Linked DNA regions of Homo sapiens: region 1 is linked to region 2. Evidence: fine-mapped expression QTL. A gene starts in region 2. The other region holds a variant in brackets. All regions are shown on one strand. Distances are between the middles of the regions. Region 1 overlaps SCEL (sciellin). Region 2 holds the start of FBXL3 (F-box and leucine rich repeat protein 3).

Region 1 (3,024 bases), 580 kb before region 2:
TGAATAATCAGGCCATCTTCACCTTTAGAAACTAAGTCATCTCGGGAGAGGGAAAAGGCAACTGTCTTTCACTGAATCTTAATGTGTAATGTAATTATATGGTCTCTGGATTTAGTGTCTGACCCTCAACAGTAAAAATAAAGTTGTATTAATATATGCCAAATCAGGGGGGTGGTAGGCTGTATTTCAGAATCCACTTCAACTACAGTCAGATTTGATTCTCTTCACACACTCAAATAAAATACTGTGTAGTCTAGGGGTCAGCAAACTATGGCCCTCAAGCTAAATCCAACTTGCAGCCTGCTTTTGTAAATAAAGTTTTATTGAAACGCAGCCATGCCCATTTGTTCACAAGGTACTTATGGCTGCTTTCACACTATTGGCAGAGATGACTAGTTAAAAACAGAGACAATTTTGTCCCTGAAACCAGAACTATTTACTATTAGCCCATTAAGAAAAAGTTGCTGACCTCTGATCTAGTCTAAATAAGCTCTGTTTGATAGCCACATACTGTAAAATAGACTGTATTCCAATATGCAAAATAAGATAGGAAATCTGCTGAGAGAAGATATATATCTTGGTATCTTTTACATCTAACTCATGTTCAAATTCATATAACAATATACATTTACAAGCTGGTGGTTTTGTTATGCCTGTTTATTTACTTAACATGATATGTCTTAGAGAAGATTCTTTCTATATAAAAGACAAATGTCATTCTTTTTTCAATGAACTGAGAATAATTTTTTAAATGACTTCCCAACTTTAAGAGTTGTTTGGGTGGTAGACAATAAGAAGAGAGGTAATACATGATGGAAGAAGAAGGAGGAAGAATTTTTTATCATATGAAGACCTTTCTTTAGGCTACTTAGATCAGGGAAATTGTTTGGGGTGATGTTTTGTCTCATGGGGAATCCCCATTAATTTTTAAGGAAATCCTCAGCATGGAACACAATCTCATACTGGTAAGAGATCATTCCTGTCTTTCAAGGAATTCTCTCTCCTGTGGCCAGAGAGCCTTCGGTAAGTGCTTGAACACTAGATTTCTGACACAGGATCTGTTGATTTGGGTCCCATCATTGGTTGTCTCTATGGCGGGACAATGCAATTTATCTTTTTTTTTTTTTTTTTTTGACGGAGTCTTGCTCTGTTGCCCAGGCTGGAGTGCAGTGGTGCCATCTCGGCTCACTGCAACCTCCACCTCCTGGGTTCATGTCATTCTCCTGCCTCAGCCTCCCGAGTAGCTGAGACTACAGGCACCCACCACCACGCCCAGCTAAATTTTTGTATTTTTAGTAGAGACAGGGTTTCACCATGTTAGCCAGGATGGTCTCCATCTCCTGACCTTGTGATCCTCCCGCCTCGGCCTCCTAAACTGTTGGGATTACAGGCGTAAGCCACCGCACAATTTGTCATGTTTTTAAGCTCATTAGGAAAAAAAAAGGGGG[G/A]AGAAATAGAGAGTTCCATAAACCTTACCCTTGGTTAGTTCTGTTTCTTTCAGGAGTCACTTTAATGAGGCTGTCGAGACTTTGGCCCCTTAAAAACATAGAAAATCAGATCAGTGGTAGATTTAAATCGAATGGTTTCAAGTGTTTGTTAAAACAGAGAAATACTTTTATTATAAAATATTTATTAAAATAATAAAATTAGAGATCATCTCAGAGGGCTGGGGGTTTTCAGTGTTGACTGTGAATATACATATAGGGACCTAACTAAAACTGGAGAGAAATAATGAATAAGAACTTCTAGAAAATGTTTGATGTCCCAGGCCAGGCACTCTTCTTAGTGATTTACATGATTTGTCTAATTTAATACTCACATCAATCCTATGACATAGGAAGTATTATTATTCCAGTTTCATAGAGGGAATAACTGAGACACAGAAACCTTAAGTAATTTTCCCACATGGCTAGTGGTAACAGAGGTGGGATTTAAAGCTAGGTAATCTGGCTGCAGAATGCCTGTGCCTTACCATGACACCAAATATCTATTGGAACTTAGTAACTGAATTAGATTTGGGAGTGTTGGGAGAGCTCCTCGTGCAATTTCCTCACTTTGAGGATGAGAAACTGAAGCCCAAACAGAAGTGACTAGTTTGAGCACACACAGGTAAGAGGAGCAGAGACAGGCCTAGACCCACAACTATGGGGTCCGGTCTAGTTCTCTTTCCCCTCTACTGTGTCATCCATCCCTTCTGCTTAAGAAAAATAATAAATCAATGAATAAAAATGTCCAGTCCATCCTGGGAAAACAACTTTATTCCTGATTAGTCAAAGAGTAATTGTCTCATTGTATCAGAAATTGGTTGACCAAAATTTTTAACATTTCAGATGTGAGGTAGCAGGGTTACATGGCTTTTCTTGAAGGATCATTGGGTTCAGCATCAGTCAGCTGAAATGATGCTTTAATTATACTTTTAGGCATTGGTTACTATGAAACAAAAAAGGGAGCTTATTAAATCTTACCCTTCAGTACTTTTTTCTGTTCCTGGATACACTTTGATGAAGTTATTAAGGTCTTTGGAACTTCAAACAAAAAAACAAAAAACATCATAAATAAAAATGGAATTAAATCAATTGACTGTTTTGATTTAAAGGATACATGTACTCAAGATAAATTTTACTACTGAGTTTTGAGATAAATTGATACCAGTCTATGCTCTTAATTTAAAAGACTAAAATTTGTGACCTTCTTACCAATCACTGGTACACTGACGTAGTTTCTCATTTACCCCCAAAATAAAACCATATAATTAGAGCAAGACGCCATTAAAAAAAATCAGTTAATGAGTGACATAATAATCTGCTAAAAATTCTCACCTGGTTCCCCTAAGCATTCCATCTAATGCTATAGCTATAACTAAACTGTTTTGTTAATAATTTCCATTTGTAATATCCTTTTTTAAAAAATGGATTTTATACCCATTATTTCATTCATTCCTAACAACTATCAAGTGACAAAAAACAAATATTATTATTATTTTGGCATGGTGTTTGGCTCTGTCGTCCAGGCTGGAGTGCAGTG
Region 2 (2,500 bases):
TGGGCTCCAGCCATCCTCTCGATTCAGCCTCCTGAGTAGTAGCCGGGATTACACCAAGCTCGTCTGATTTTTTAAAATTATTACTCTTCTATTTTTTTGTAGAGACAAGAGTCTGGACATATTGCGCAGGCTGGTCTCCAATTCTTGACCACAAGCAACCCTTCTGCCTTGGCTTCCCAAAATGTTGGGATTACAGACATAAGCCTGTACCACTCCTGGCCTCACACTGAACTTCGACGTAACTTTATACATGGCTTCCTAGCTCAATTTCTTGAGAAAACGGGAAGAACGGAGAGCTCCCTGGGCACCACTGCTTTTCAGTGTCTTATACATGGGTCTGAGTGTTCTAAGACATCTTTGAATGGAAAACTACTTTCTCTCTTTTTTTTTGGAGGTGTAGAGAGGAATGGCGCATGATTCAACTTAATGATATTGCACCTAAGAATGTTTCTAACTGTAAGAAAACGCAGTATCAAAAAATCCAAACTTTAAAACAAGTCAACTAGGTAGCAGTTACAAAGATGCCTTGATTTACAAAAGGATTCACCAGAGGTTTTCTTTTCAGCAGCTTTGTAATCCTTTACTTTCCCCATTGCGTTTCAAAAGCTATTTACAAATTTCAGGACTCTATTTCATAAAGCAAATGTCGTTTTTAAAATGTAATAACTCTAATGATAAAAGCCACTTTAGAAATATTGGGAAATACAAATATTTGAAAAACAAAAACCATGTGCAATCCCAGCGTTAATACTCTCACTATTCTGGTACATTTCCTTGGCATCTTTTAAGCACCACTTATGCACATCGATGCGCGGGTCTTCGGAGACTGTATTTAACTCCTCGGTTTCAGGCATCCGGGGCGGCCACCCGCGGGCCGCGGTCCCCAGCAGGCTCCGGCGAGACTCCTTCCTTTCTTTTTTCTGCTCCACCTCCCTAAACCTTCCAGTTTCAGCCACAGATAGTCTCTTCCACATATAGCTAGCTTCAGCCCTCCCACATTCCATCTCAAAACAACAAAAAAAATCCCCTTCAAGCGGGAGTCACATCTCTGGCAGGAAGGCAGAGGCTCGTCCCACAGCAAGGAGACTGGGGCGGCCGCAGCGCGCGCTCCCGCTTGGGCGCGGCCCTACTCCCGCCGGGCTCCGCCCCCCCCCCGCCCCCTTCCCGCCCCCTTGGGCGGGGACGCGCCAGGGAAGCGCGCGGCCGCGAGCCCTGGGCGCCATTTTAGACTCGCTGTTTGTGGCCCAGGTGCAGGAAGCTTACGCGGTGGCAGCCGCTCGCTGAGGTAGTCTCTCGCGGCGCCGGGGATCCCTGAACACAGACAGCGCGGGACTGAGAAGGAAAGCTTCTTTCTGGGCAGCCAGAGCCGCAAAGGTGGAGCCGCGTTGGCGCCCTCCGCGGGACCAGCGCCTCGGATGCGGGCGGAGCGCGGGGGGCCGCGGCTGCGGGAGCGCGAAGCGGGGGGCCAGGGGCGCCTCATGTGAGAGCCGCGGGACCTGCAGCCGCCGCCGTCCCCGGAGCACGGGGTGGTGTGTGGGGGAAGCCGCCCCCGGCAGCAGGTAACGGCGGAGGGGCAGGGCCGAGCCCCGCTGCGACGGCGGAGCCGGGGAGGGACCGCGGACCGTCTGTGGGCGGGCCGGGGTGGGGTGGGGTGGGGGGGGGCGCGGGGGCCGGGGCGCGCGCGGGCCGCTCCTCAGGAGTGCCGGGCGGGGCGCGGGGCGCGGCACCCAGACCTTGGAGCTTGCTTGGGGGCGTTTCCCCGCCGTGCCTGCTTCCAAACATGTCAACAAGGCGTGGTGCGTGTGCGGCGGCCGCCTGCAGCCTGCCCGCGACGCCGCCGCTCCCGGGTTCGCCGCGGCTCCTGCCAGGCTTTATGACCCTTGGCGGGGGCTGGTGACAGGCACCATGGAGCTCGCACTCTGTGGGCTCTCCCGGCGTCGGCTACGCCCGTGCTGGTAGCTTGAGCAATGAGGCACTGAAATGTCAAAGCAAACTGCCCAGGGTGGGGCGCATGAGAAATGTCAGGGGAAGCCAGTCGGTGGGGAGGTGGCGCAGGGAGGAGGGGACGCCCCTGCCGCTTAGCCAGGCGAAAAACTTGGTCAACTTGTGTTGAGCGGATTCGCGTCTGCCTTTGGCGTGGGCAGTCCTTTAGGTGGGGTTGCAGACAGGGGTCAGGAAGCAGCCCAGTAAATGGTCTGTATCTCCAAGCTGAGAGGTGAGAGAGATCATTTTTATTTTGTCGTTGCTAATGATATCCAGTTGAGTGACCCAGATTTTTTAATTAGAATCCTCCTTTTCTAACTTGAAAAAAAAGTAACTTAGTTTCTGTTATCTCTGAAATATTTATAAAAATACCATCAACTATCAGTTATCTATCTATCTATATGACCTGTAGACAGATTTTCGCCACTGTGCGCTCTCTAAGCATTTAGTTGTGAGTTAACCTCTTTATAGTGTTTTATTCTTGTAGTTCAGCCAAAGAATGCATATTAGTTTGATA

What was found. PIP is the estimated chance that this variant, and not a neighbour inherited with it, causes the effect.
Region 1: its variant is fine-mapped to the expression of FBXL3 in whole blood (INTERVAL, PIP 0.98).

Annotation. Positions count from the first base shown.
Region 1 is chr13:77,608,559-77,611,582 of GRCh38, reverse strand. It overlaps SCEL (sciellin), which reads right to left. Exons shown (of 33, transcript NM_144777.3): 21 at 2,466-2,525; 22 at 1,477-1,536. Among named protein-coding and RNA genes, the nearest start is that of SCEL-AS1, 3.5 kb to the right of the region's middle. The variant G/A (reference allele first, on the strand shown) is at 1,449.
Region 2 is chr13:77,025,886-77,028,385 of GRCh38, reverse strand. FBXL3 (F-box and leucine rich repeat protein 3) reads left to right here and starts at 1,227. Exons shown (of 5, transcript NM_012158.4): 1 at 1,227-1,559. RefSeq lists silencers at 1,107-1,156, 1,327-1,606, 1,627-1,686.